Linked DNA regions of Homo sapiens. The protein of the gene in region 3 interacts with the protein of the main gene of each other region in a biochemical or structural test. Each region holds a gene or a part of one and is shown on either strand. Other genes may lie near its edges.

What was found. Proteins that work in one complex are often made in the same cells at the same time.
Region 1: the proteins of WASL (region 3) and RHOQ form a complex in vitro, tested with the Homo sapiens proteins (one study listed by BioGRID).
Region 2: the proteins of WASL (region 3) and ARPC1B form a complex in vitro, tested with the Homo sapiens proteins (one study listed by IntAct).

The regions. Positions count from the first base shown.
Region 1 is NC_000002.12:46,544,671-46,548,989, reverse strand, and holds part of RHOQ (rho-related GTP-binding protein RhoQ), read right to left. Parts: intron 1-4,319. UniProt on the Homo sapiens protein: Plasma membrane-associated small GTPase which cycles between an active GTP-bound and an inactive GDP-bound state. In active state binds to a variety of effector proteins to regulate cellular responses. Involved in epithelial cell polarization processes.
Region 2 is NC_000007.14:99,383,911-99,388,229, reverse strand, and holds part of ARPC1B (actin-related protein 2/3 complex subunit 1B), read right to left. Parts: intron 2,529-4,319; 5' UTR 2,516-2,528; coding exon 2,452-2,515; intron 1,546-2,451; coding exon 1,441-1,545; intron 192-1,440; coding exon 1-191. UniProt on the Homo sapiens protein: Component of the Arp2/3 complex, a multiprotein complex that mediates actin polymerization upon stimulation by nucleation-promoting factor (NPF).
Region 3 is NC_000007.14:123,738,218-123,743,602, forward strand, and holds part of WASL (actin nucleation-promoting factor WASL), read right to left. Parts: intron 1-5,385. UniProt on the Homo sapiens protein: Regulates actin polymerization by stimulating the actin-nucleating activity of the Arp2/3 complex. Involved in various processes, such as mitosis and cytokinesis, via its role in the regulation of actin polymerization.

The DNA.
Region 1 (4,319 bases), on a different chromosome or scaffold from region 3:
TGCCAGCCCACAGTCTAAGCTGGCATAACCCAAACCCACATCAGAGTCCCAAGGAGGGGAACACAGGGCATTCAGACTTTGGAGCGAACACAGCAAAGGCTTTGGAGTCAACAAAGGCTATCCACCTTCCCAACGCAGAGGAGGAAACCAGCATTCCCGTGTGATGCGGTGTGGGCTAGAGATATAAATAGCTTCTAAAAAGGTTAGCAAAATGCACACATGACAAATCTACAGTAGGTTACTAAGGGAAACCAGGATGCTCAGTGCCAGCATCTCACCTGTTGCAGCTGATGCCTGGAAGGAACCCTGGGGCTCCTCCCAGGCTCTGCTCACCGGGCTGAGCAAGGATGGAACACGGGGCTACAAGGACCCAGAGTCTGATGTTGTGAGTGGCATTTCCTAAACCCTACTAATGTTCCCTGCAGGCCTTCTCCAAAGTAGAAAACCTTTTTCCTAATCACATCTCTGTCTGGTTCCCATAAGCCCACTTGTTCCCAATTTCCTCATCTGGGAGAAGTCTACCTTGAAGGGTGTTGTGAGGATGACTTGCCTGGAGGTGGGAGGAGCCTGGTGAGTGGTGATCCCATGGCCCTTTCTCCTTCCCTTTTCTCATCATGCCAGGCCCTTCTGCTAAAATGCAGAAGGTGGGGCATGCCAAGCCTGCCTCCGGTGGAGATTCCCTTCTGTAGGGGAAGTGCCTTGTGGGCACCCAGAGGGCATGCAGGGCAGCCACAGCTGCTGGGTTATATCAAGTGTAAAACAAATCTCACTTGTCATTGAAAAAGCAACACCAAGGGACACCAGAGTAAAAGATATTTATAGCTGTCATGGACGCTTCCCTGAACTTGTGTGTTTAAGTTAACAGACATAGAAACAATACATCCCAAAGCACACAAATTGACTTCCACACACTGAGACAGTGGCTAAATCTGGAACTCTAGGGATCCCAAATTCACCCCCAACACACATCCTCCTGAGTGTGGATATTCTGGGACCTGAATAAACTGGGCTTCAGTCCTTCCCTCTCCAGGGTATCAAGTTCTGCCTTCCTGCCAAGGATTAAGAGATCAGCCTAGAGCCCACAGCTAGAGAGCAGCTTGCCAGGCAGCTCCCCACTGGCCTGTCTGGACAGAGAGGGAGAGCTCTTTCCACTTCCCATCGCTCCAAACAGTGCAGTAGCAGGAGGGAAAATCCCATCTCTCCAGTCCCTCCTTGAGCAGACAATGGGGTTGCTGCAGAGCCTACACTGAAGTCCTGAAGGCTGGGCAAGAAAGGAGAAGCTCCACAGAGGCCCAGGCAGGAAGCCAACCCCTCACCCCCAAAACACACGCAAGGCCCCTAGTGAGAAGGAAGATGCCTCGGTCAACTTCCACTCCAAAATGCTTGGCAGTCAAAATGTGACAGCTGCTCCTGGACCACCCATGGGCTTGGCCAACAGAGGGGAAGTGTTCCCTTTGGCAGTGGTGCTCTGAGTGTGCTGGGATGTCCCCAGGCAGTGCACATGATGGGGACTGAAGTCCAATACACTCTCTCTCCCATTCTCTCTCTTTGTCTGCTAATAGCAGCAGAGGTCAAGTGGAAAGCAGCCTGCTCTAGAAGGCCAAAGGTCATCTACAACAATCACCCTTTGACTGGTAGATGCCCTAATATGTCAGTCGGACAAATGATGCCTATGGCTTTGAACTTGACTGGGGTTAAGGCAGGGACCATGAGTGAGCAAGTGGACTAGAGGTTCCAAACTGAGGGAGGCACTGTTGCTGTTATTCAAATACAATGAGTGCCCACATGCATGAGTGAACATTTTGGAGAGAAGGCAACTGACCTGTAGTGCCATGAGCTGCCTCATTCCATCTTAACTCTCTGAAAGTAGAACCAACTGAAGCCTACATACCCTACTTGTCTGTCAAATTCTGCATGGAACTCTAAGCTATTTCTCTTCTATCAATGGGGATACGGGCTCTGCTTAAGACAGAAAACCATCTGATACAACAGGGCATTTACGGCAGGGAGCACTGGGCTTGGAACCATGGATCCCACAATAGGGACTATGGGAATTACAATGCGCAAAGCTGTTGCACACCTTGGTTGAAAAGGTTCTAGGATCTGGCATTCTAGTGGAATTTCTATCAACTCCAGGCACAATATACTGTTCTCTTCCACTCTGTGAACCTTTCTCCCCACAAAACTCCCCATAGTGGAATATAATAATTTCCTGTACTATTTGTCACTCACCCACTATGCACAAAGTATCAGCTGCTTTTAAATATGTTAAAGAGTTTAAGCCAGCCTATGACCTTGTAATGCAGATTCTAATTATTCACGTTTTTACTAGATCACAAAGGTAAATAATTTAGCTAGAATCACATGACTAGCTAAGGTGGAGATCTGAGCCCAGGCCTGTTTTGTTCCAAAGCCCATGGACCTTTCTCTGCTGCCCACTAGGCTTAAGGATTTGTGTATATATATATATGTATATACATATATATATATATATATATATATATATATATATACACATATATATATATATATATATATGTATATGTGTATACGGATACATATATATATATATAAACCCTTAATGTTTTTTATTTACTTTTTATTTACATGTTTATTTATCATTGTTATTATTGTAAGACAAATCTGATATGGATTCCTAGAAGCCTGAGGTCTTAATGACCAAGTGCAATGTAGAGATCTCCTATGTAACACATGAACAGAGACCCGAGACAGACATTTCTCCCTTTGCTGACATCAGCTGTGGTAGATCCCCATTTTAAATTCATTCCTTTGCACTCCCCAGGTGCAAAAGTACCTGGACATAGTACCAGGTACACAGCAGGCACTTGCCATTTGGTCTCATCATTGCTAAGTTGCTTATTAGTAATAAACCCTCAAATGCTGGGAGATGAAATATTACTAGCTTTGATGCAAAAACAAAAGTCTAGACACTGGGAAAAACACCAATGGGGCCTAACACACATCTAGGCCCCACCAATGGTGTCCAGCATTGGGTGAAAACAGTAGTATTTGAGCCTTACTAATATGTTCATCCTGCTTGGTCTATATCTTATGATCCTCCACTAAAAAGAGTAATTACGGCCATATATGGAAAGCCCTGGTTTTGTAAGTGGGGTCAACTTCAAGTGACTCTGGATCTAAGTTCTCTCCTCTGTAGAGGTGCCATCCAACACCCACTCAGAGAATGGCTGTGAAGATTACAGGTACCACAACTATGGATGCACAAACAATCCAATCAACCCCGTGGCATCTCAGCATTCCCATGGTGTCCTGTGTGTATAACTACTTCAAACTGGAGCAGATTCAGACCCCTGTCCCAATCCTAGCAACACCCCTCAGTAGCTGTGTGACCTCAGGCAAGCAACCTAGCTTCTCTGAGCCTGTTTCCTCACCGCAAAGATGAAATACCACCTATCTCATGGGGTTGTTTTATGGACTAAATAAAATAATATTTGCATGTGTCTGCCTCTGGCCCCATATGTAGGAAAAAACTCAGTAAATACTAGCAGGGTTTAAACATACTCAGAACAGCTCTGACTACACACATCCTGTTGAACAGGGAGTGCGGTCAAAAATTATCATGGTCACAAGTAAAGGAGATAAGAGAAAGGAAGGTAGTGAGAAGTTCAAATTAGAGGCGATTTTTTAAAAGCTTCCTCTTTTCAACCAATAAGGTCAACCTCTTGTTTATCAATAATACGACTTAAAAGTCAGTCTTAGTTGATTGAGCAAGCTCTGCCCCTTGCCCTCCACATCCTCCAATGAAGGTAGAAGGAATAACGACTACAGGGCAGGCAACCAATGGGGGCCCAGGAGAGCTGAGAACTGGCTGTACTGACCTGGGCCATTTTGGTGAAAGGGGGTGGTCTCAGGGACCTTGAACTGCCAGCAGTTCTCTATCTTCAGACGTTCCTCTAACAGTTTAGAAACCAGAGGTCACATCAAGGCACTCCCCCTCAATAAGGCATGTTTCAGAATCCAACCTAAACTCTAATCACAGTTCTGAAATCCAAATCTAGACAAGCTTCAAAGTACATCACTCCCTTTATTGAGCACCTAGTGTGTGCCAGGTTCAATGCTAAACATTTGCCATACAATATCTGCACCAGGGGATCATCTTATTTTTTTAAACCCCATTTTGCAGATAAGGAAATTCTACTACTGGACTTCCCCCAAAGACATTCTCTAAGACTTTCAGCTGCTCCTGTGTTCTCAAGGATGTAAGTCTGTATGACATGTGGAAACTTCTGCCAGAGTCTTCAACTCTAATCATAGTGCTGGATTCTACAAAATTCATC
Region 2 (4,319 bases), about 24 Mb from region 3:
GATCACACGAGAGCCGCTGCCCACAGCAAACTTGTTCTCGTTGGGGGCCCAGCGCACGCAGCGGGCAGCCCGGTTGATCCGCAGGATGACCAGCGTGGGCTTCCATGTGCGGCCCTTCAGCGTCCACACGTAGGCGTTGCGGTCTGTGCCGCAGGTCACAATACGGTTACTCTCGGGGGCCCAGTCGATGCCTGTGGGGGGATGGAGGGAACACAGGAGGCTGATGACACTCAGGCAGAGGTGGCTGTATGGTGGCCACATGGGAGAGGCTGAAAGGCCACCATCCAGGTGGAAGCTGTATCTGCCCAGCAGGCACTTTTTTTTTTTTTTGAAACAGAGTCTCGCTCTGTCACCCAGGCTGGAGTGCAGTGGCATGATCTCAGCTCACTGCAGCCTCTGCCTCCCAGGTTCAAGCAATCCTCGTGCCTCAGCCTCCTGAGTAGCCGGGACTACAGGTGTGTACCACCAATCTTTTTTTTTTTTTTTTTTTTTTGAGACAGAGTCTCGCTCAGCCGCCCAAGCTGGAGTGCACTGGCACGATCTCAGCTCACTGGAACCACCATCTTCCGGGTTCAAGCAATTCTCACATATCAGCCTCCCAAGTAGCTGGGATTACAGGCACCCGCCATCATGCCTGGCTAATTTTTGTATTTTAGTAGAGATGAGGTTTCACCATGTTGACCAGGCTGGTCTTGAACTCCTGACCTCAGGTGATCCGCCCGCCTCCGCCTCCCAAAGTGCTGGGAGTACAGGCGCAAGCCACCGCACCCGGCCTCTTTCTTTCTTTGTTTTTATTGCGACACAGTCTCGCTCTGCCATCCAGGCTGGAGTGCAGTGGTGCAATCTCAGCTCACTTCAACCTCCGCCTCCTGGGTTCAAGCGATTCTTCTGCCTCAGCCTCCAGAGTATCTGGGACTACAGGTGCGTGCCACCACACCCGGCTAATTTCTGTATTTTTCAACATTTAGTCATGTTGGCCAGGATGGTCTCGAACTCCTGACCTCAAGCGATCCACTCGCCTTGGCCTCCTGAAGTGCTGGGATTACAGGCATGAGCCACTGCACCCGGCCCAGCAAGCACTTTTTACTGAGATCCAGTGCTTATTTAGAGTGACACCAGGGGGCACTCCTAGAGCTTATGAGGGAGTGTCAGAGCCCTCCATGCTATCAGCAAACATGCTGGAGGGCAAAGCCAAGAGGCAGAAAAGATGGGTTCTTGGTCATGTGGAGCTGCTGGATCAAGCCTCTCCTGAAGCCCTCAACCCTGTGAGTTTTTGGTAACATGAGCCAACACAGTCCCCTTAAAATTGAAGCCAGTTTGAATCCGGGTTTCACGGTGAGTGGGCAGATGCTCCACAATGAGTGGCCATGCCCTGCCTTGCACCACCCCCCCAACCCACCACCTCCTTTCAGGACGGTGGTCCCAGCCACCCTGACATACCTGTCACCTGCCCGTTGTGCTCCTTGAGCTCGTGCACCTTGGTCCATTTGGCACCGCTCTTTTCATAGATATGCACCTCATGGTTGTTGGGGCAGATGGCAATCTCTGAAGGGGAGATGGAGGGAGATTGAGGGGCCCTCTCCATGACTGCCCTCTGCCAGGACACACTACACAGTGCACCTAGGCAACAACACCTCACCTTTCATGACTCAGTCTCTCCTCTTCTGCCTTGCAGGGGCCCCCTGAAGTCCTTCAGGCCCTGCTAGGCCACCCTGTCTTCTCCTGGAACTGGCTGTCCTTTACTCGCAGCAATGAACCCTGGGACCTCTCCCCACCCTATTGCTCTGGCCAACCAGGAACCCTTCGCTGCTCCTGCTGACACCTCAGGGCCCCTGCACCTGCCAGCCCCTCCCCAGCTGGGGCACAGTTCCCTTCCTCTCCCCCTCTGGGTCTCTGGGTAAATGTCAAAATGTCATCTCCTCCGAAAGGCTTTTTCTTGGTCACTTTTTCTTTCTTTCTTTCTCTCTTTTTTTTTTTTTGAGACAGAGTCTCGCTTTGTTGCCCAGGCTGGAGTGCAGTGGTGCAATCTCGACTCACTGCAACCTCCGCCTCCTGGGTTCAAGCAATTCTCGTGCCTCAGCCCCCCGAGTAGCTGGGATTACAGACACCCACCACCACGCCCAGGTAATTTTTGTATTTTTAGTAGAGACAGGGTTTCACCATGTTGCCCAAGCTGGTCTGGAACTCCTGACCTCAAGTGATCCACCCACCTCAGCCTCCCAAAGTGCCGGGATTACAGGCATGAGCTACCGCAACTGGCCCATTCCCTCCTTAAACTTTAACCCAGGAGGCCCCTGGTCAGCTGGAAGACCCAGGGGTGAGGCCAGGGGACAGCCACATGGAGCCCATGGTCCGGGGGCCTGGCTGCTCCAGAGTCCCCATGTGTGCTCTGGCTGGTCCCCATCCCAGGAGGTGGAAGCAGCCACCCACCGGCCCCCAGCAAGCACTCACGGGTGCGGTCCTTGTTCCAGGCGTGGCAGCTGATGGGCTCCACCAGGAAGCTGTGGTAGGCCATGGCGGCTTGGCTCCTGTGCCCGAGAGAGGAAGAGAGAATCCACGTCAGCCCCAACCTTGCCCCTGACTTCACCCATACCAGGCCCCAGATGATCCTCACAGGCCTCACACCAGGGAGGCCCCTCAGTTTAGAGGGGCAGCAGTTTGCAGAGAGGAGCAGCAGGGGCCAGCCCTGGCTCCCAACTGGCCTGACATGTTGCTTCCCCTCCTGGGGCCTCAGTTTCCCTCCTTATAAAAGGGCAGCTTTCACAGGATGTCTCTGAGGCTCCAGGGACAGGGTGGAGGAGACGGTACTACAGGGGAGATGCTCCCTGGGGCGGGGTGGGGTGCTAGGACTCCAAGCTGGACAGGCCCCTCACTTGTCATCTGTGCCTCGGTTTCCTCATAGGATGGACGACCCCCCCCCCCCCACCCAACTTCCCCTGCCCCATTAAGGATGGGATGAAGATGAAGTCATCCAGGCCAGGCCCGGTGGCTCATGCCTGTAATCCCAACACTTTGGGAGATCGAGGCAGGCGGATCACTTGCGGCCAGGAGTTCAAGACCAGCCTGGCCAACATGGTGAAACTCCGTCTTTACTAAAACTACAAAAAATTAGTCGGGTGTGGTGGCGGGCACCTGTAGTCCCAGCCTGAGGCAGGAGAATGGCGTGAACTTGGGAGGCGGGGCTTGCAGTAAGCCGAGATCGCACCACTGCACTCCAGCCTGGGCGACAGAGTGAGACTCCGTCTCAAAAAAAAAAAAAAAAAAAAAAAAAAAAATTAGCCAGGTGTGGTGGCACCTGCCTGTAATCCCCACTACTCAGGAGGCTGGGTGACAGAGCAAGACTCATCTCAGAAAAAAAAAAAAAAAAAAGAAATGAAGTAATCTCATAAACCACCTAGAAAGGTGTCCAGCACATGGCAGTTGGCCCTGCCGTGCCCAGAGCCCTGGTCTTCCCCCACACTGCTCAGACGGGGAGAAGGGAGGTGGCCGGTCTGCAGGGGCTCATGGCTGAGGCAAAGGCAGATATTTAACAGATACATCCCATTCTCCATCCAGACATCCACTGGCTGCACCCAGGGCTGGGAGGAGGCACAGGGCTAGGCGAGGCCTGGGTGATGGCTCTTGGGGAGGCCCCAGGGTGACCCAGCCTTGGGGAACTGAAGGAGGGAGATTTTTGTTTCTTGAGACAGGGTCTCTCTCTGTGGCCCAGGATGGAGTGCAGTGGTGTGATCATGGCTCACTGCAGCCATGAACTCCTGGGATTACAAGCATGTGCCACTGTGCCCAACTAATTTTTGATTTGTTTGTAGAGAGGGGGGTCTCACAATGCTGTCCAGGCTGGTCTCAAGCTCCTAGGCTCAAGAGATCTTCCCTCCTCACCTGCCAAGTATTTGGGATTACAGGTGTGAGCCACTACACTCGGCCAGAACGAGGGAGATGTTTGACTGCAGCCCTCTAGACTAGCCCCAGCACTGAAGGGGAACCCTGGCAGAGGGCAGCGACTCATCCTCCCGTCAGCCCAGCTCAGCCCCTGCCAGCCTGTCCCTAGCCTCCTCCACCTGCCGCTGAGTGTCAAAGGAGCCCACCAGGCCTGACGGGGGTGAGATCACGGTCTCAGCCCAATTCCTCAAACACATCTCTCCCCGCCTCCGTGACTCAGTTTCCCAGCATCACAGGGACCTGGAAGTGGAGGAGCCCAGTGGCACTGCTTGCCCAGCCACATGCCCCGGGACACATCACCTGCCTTCTTTTAACCTCAGTTTTCTCATCTGTAAAATGGGAACAGGAATCCTGCCTCCCAGCAGAGATGCTGAGAGCTG
Region 3 (5,385 bases):
AAAAAGGATGCAACAGATATAAACATGGAAATATATATTTATATATATTAATAAAAGTGAAAAAGTTAAGTTGCAGAACAATATGTATACCATGTTTCTAGCAAATTAAAGAGAATAGCACTTTAGCACTTGGCCAAAGCCATCCTCTTCCAATGCTGCTGGCCAAGTAAAACATTAGCTAGACTGTTCCCTCTGTAATCTTGAGCTTGACACCTTCACAGATCTAATCCCACTCCCACAGCCGCAATAATCAACACTAGAGTCCAAAGTTCTAGTTCCTACTATCTAGCCATTTATAGTATGAGGTTTTGTTGTCATCCAGAATTCACAAGCCAATTAAATATTGCCAATTTTTTCTTCACGTTTCTGGTATCTAGCCTTGGAATGACAACTAGATTTCATCTATCGTGAACCTGGACAATTGGTAGTGGTTGCCTCTAGGAATACAACAGGTAGTTAGAAACCATGTCTGAACTCAGTAGGAAAAAATGCTGTGATTGTTGGTGTCTGCCATGGACACATACATCAAGGACTTAGTCCTTTTTTTTGCTATACATCAGGGGTGTCCAATCTTTTGGTTTCCCTGGGCCACATTGGAAGAAGAAGAATTGTCTTGAGTCACACACAAAATACGGTAACACCAATGATAGGTGATGAGCAAAACAAAAACAAAAAACTGCAAAAAAAAAACCCAAAATCTCAAACTGTTTTAAGAAAGTTTATGAATTTGGATTGGGCCACCTTCAAAGCCATCCTGGGCCGCAGGTTGGACAAGCTTGCTCTAGAAGCTGCCACAATTCCAGGTTTCTTAGTCAGATCTGATGTGCTGAACTAATAAATAAGAAATTTAGTAAACAATAAAGTATTACTCAATCCTTATTTCTATTATGAATAATAATTTCCAATTTTCTTTCTCCAGATCCTTCCTATCTTGAAATTTCTTGAAGAAATCTTAGTGTTTCCTTACTTTCTAGGGAATAAAGTTCAATCCTTAAGACTTGAAGTTCAAAGGTCTTCCAAAATCTAGCCTCAATTTACTCTTCAAACTTACCATCCACTATCTGCCCAAGCAAATGTCATTCTCAATTCTAGCCAACCAGTCTCCTCAATGCCTCCTAAAATTCTATACACATTTTCTATCCCAAACTTTTGTTTACACATTTCCTGATATAAACACTCCCCAACTAATGATGGTTCCACTTACAATTTTTCAGCTTTACAATGGTGCGAAAGCAATATGCATTCAGTAGAAACCATACTTTGAGTACCCATGCAACCATTTAGTTTTGTACTTTCAGTACAGTATTCAACAAATTATGTAAAATATTCAACACTTTATTATAAAATGGGCTTTGTGTTACATCAGGTTGCCCAACTGTAGGTTATTGTAAATGTTCTGAGCACATTTAAGGAAGGCTAGGCTAAGCTATAATGTTTGGTGGGTTAGGTGTGTTAAATGCATTTTTGACTACAACATTTTCAACTTACGACAGGTTTATCAGGACATAATCCATCATAAGTAGAAGAGCATCTGTACCTGATAAGCTGCTTGTTTCTGACATCAATTCTCTAGGCTATTTAAGGTTTTTCATATTCAAGTCCCACAATGATATACCTATCTCTCCTCTCTATTATTCAAATCTTTTATACATTTATATATGTGTGTGTGTGTGTGTGTGTGTGTGTGTGTGTGTGTGTATATATATATATATATGCTGGTTTGCAGCATATATCTTTTTGTGCATAATTTTTGTCTTCTTCAGCTATACAGTGAATAACTGAGGGGTAAAACCTGGATTTTCCTTACTGCTCCCTCATATTCCAAGATACTGGGAGGGTGTTATGTGCTTAGTAAGTCCTCAAGACTTGACTACGTTTCACTAATAAAAATCATTTCAGTTTCTAGCTAGTTTATGCATCAGTTTATGTATTAGTAAAGGAGTTGATTGATAAGACATATATATCTCATACATATGTCAGATATATCTCATATATTATCTTTTATATATATATCTTTCATTTGATCACATTTTCTTGAGGGGCTTTTCTGTATTTACCTCTTCAACATTACAGTCAATTATTTGGTCTCTTTAAAAAAAGGGTTACAATTCCTCTACAGTGCATTAACTCCTATGAGAAAATAATGTTTTCTAATTAGTTTTACTCTCCTATATGCTATTATATCAGTATAACTCTCGAATACTTCTGAGACTACTAACATAGATGCAATAAATAAGATTTATTTTGTATTACACTATATTTATGAATATGGTTAAGCATGCCAAATGTCTCCTAATTACTAAATACTTAATACAGCAGGTCCTCAAATAACATCCTTTTGTTCAACATCATTTTGTTCAATGTCCTTTCATCATAACTTTTTTTTTTGTTTTTAAGAGACCAGGTCTTCCTATGTTGCCCAGGCTGGAGTGCAATGCCCTCATCATGGCTTACTGCATCCTTGAATTCCTGGGCTCAAGTGAACCTCCTGCCTCAGCCTCTGGAGTAACTGGGACTACAGACATGGGCCACCACTACCAGCTACTTTTTCTTGTAGAGATTAGGTCTATGTTGCCCACGCTGGTGGCAAACTACTGGCCTCAAGTGATCTTCCTGCCTCAGCCTCCCAAAGCGCTGCGATTAAAGGTGTGAACCACCACGTCCAGCCCATTATTAACTTTGATGAGAAAAGAAAATCATTTTCAAGCTGGGGTCACTGTCTGTGTGGAGTTTGCAGGTACTCCCCATGTCTATTGGGTTCTCTGGGTACTTGGATTTCCTCCCACATCCCAAAAATGTGCATGTTAGGTTCACTGGTCTGTCTACATTATCCCAGGATGAGCAAGTGTGCGAGTGAGTTGTGGGTGTAGGTATGAGTGCACCCTGCGATGGGATGATGTCCTGTCCAGGGTTGGTTCTTGCCTTGTACCCTGAGCTGCCAGGATAGGCTCCAGCCACCTGAGACTGAAGTGAAGTAACTGGGTAAATAATTATCTTGTTTTTATTACTCTTTCTTAAATGTGTTACAGCTCACATTTATTTCATTAATTAATATTAGAAGTGTTTTTGTCTTTATTTAGAAGTTTGGTGATATATGCTACAGAAACTTAGCTCTTGTTTATATCAATTACCCTATGGTAAAACTGGTTTCATTATGTGTTGTTTCACCTAAAGTCACAGTTTCCAAGAATCCATCAACGATGCTAGGTGACCTATAAGAATTATATTTATAGTTAACAATGTATATCCTATTACTGTGACTATGAATGTATAAACTTTTGTTTCTAGAACCTTTAGAGTAAGAGTGAACTCTATTAGGAAAGCTATGACTTCTAGACAGAATAAATTATAACAAAGTTCAACCCTTATCTGCTCTTTTAAAATCTGTTTTTCTACTCAAAACTAGAATGGGCTACCATTATACTTCCATTAATATTATTTATTTAAAAAATCTATAGAATATGGACAAAAGTGAAATACATGAGATTACTACAAGCATGCATTTCCTTAGGAAAGTTTTGCTCTTACCAGTTTTTATAAAGACTTTTTAAAAATCTTACTATAGAAGACTAGAATACTGATACACATGGTAGGAATTGCTCAGCAGCAAAACAAATAGAACCCGGCTCCTCTGTACTTTGGCCAACGCTTAAGTAGCTCCAATTCTATATGTTATGAGGAATCCTGAATGTCCTAATCAAACCTGCTCTCTAATCAAGACTTTATTTCCAGACTTTATAATCTGATATTACTCATAGATACAATTTTTACATTAAAAGATAACTTTTTAAAAAAATAGTATATTTTAAATAAAATCCCTACAACTGTCCACAACAGAGAGATGGCCAAAGAGTGACTGGCAGAACTTGGTGAAAGAGACACTGTTCAAAAGGCCCAGTCACATCTTTTCCTCAAGAGCTGTGCTTTCTAATATCCAGAGCACAGCAAGAACAGAAGTTGAATAAGCAAGAAAGACAGTAAAAGATAAAACCCAGCCCTTTGCATCTTAAAAGCATGCCTAATTTTGGCATTCATTTGGGTTTCAGAAAAGTTCTGTCAAAGGTTCTAGTGTCTCTTGGTATGCTGTTTCAGGAATACAAAATTCACTAATATAATAAGCCATAATTTCAGCATGTTGTCCAGTGCATTACAAAAAAATTTAAGAAAACCAAGATTATTTTAATCACACAAATGAATCCCCACAGTAACCTCAATCTTGAATCAGTCTCTAAAGTAACCAAGTCAATTCACTATAACTATTAAGTCTACCACTGAAACTAAAAACCGATTTTTTTAATATTGGAAAATAAGCAGTAACATGTAACACCTATCATATCACTAATACAATTTCATCCAGAATTAGGATTCTAGATGGAATTGGTTAACAAAAGAGAAATTCTTAAAAATAATTCCATCTTAACCAAAAAAGCAGTTTCTAATAACCCAAAAATACATTATAATTACAAATAATAATTCTAAGTTAGCTAAGAGTTGGTAATTCTACTACTAATGCTTTTTTATTCTGTTCACTCTGCTGTTTTAAAAGTGAAATGCCTATTAAATTACAATGCTTAGAAAAAGGTGAATTAAAAATGGGAATTTTCAATGAAATAATTCAGGATTATCTACCTTCTGCTTAGATATATGCTATATTAGTCTCGGCTGTGCAAAACACATATATGCTAGAGTTAACATTAGGCCTGTTCTTTCCCTGCTAGAGTCCCTGGAATCTAGAATAGTTAAACTGATTAAGCATTAAAGCTGGAAAGACTGTGGAGTTATCTTGTCTGACCCTTCATTTTCAAATTAGAAAAGTGAAGTTCAGGAAGGGAGAAATGGCCAGGCACAGTGGCTCACACCTGTAATCCCAGCACTTTGGGAGGTTGAAGCGGACAGATCACCTGAGGTCAGGAGTTCGAGACCAGCCTGGCCAGCATGGTGAAACCCTGTCTGTACTAAAAATACAAAAATTAGCCAGGGGTAGTGGCACACGCCTGTAGTTCCAGCTACTTGGGAGGCTGAGGGAGGAGAATAACTTGAACCTGGGAGGCCGAGGTTGCAGTGAGCCGAGATCGTGCCACTGCACTCCCGCCTTGGCGACAAAGCAAGACTCTGTCTCAAAAAAAAAAAAAAAAAAAATTCCTGTTCATATTCACAATGTATGGTAGCAGAGCATGGACTAAAATTCAGGAACTCCTAACTTTTTCATCAGGACCCCTTTCTTCCTCTTCAATTAGCAGCCAGGGAGGCTCAGGCTGCCCAGACACTCCCCAAAGAGATACATTCAAGCTGCTCCTTAACTTTTAATTTACACACCTATAATTAACTGACTTTAAAATTGTTAATTTACCTAAGTCAAAACAAATACAATATAGAGCTGAAAAT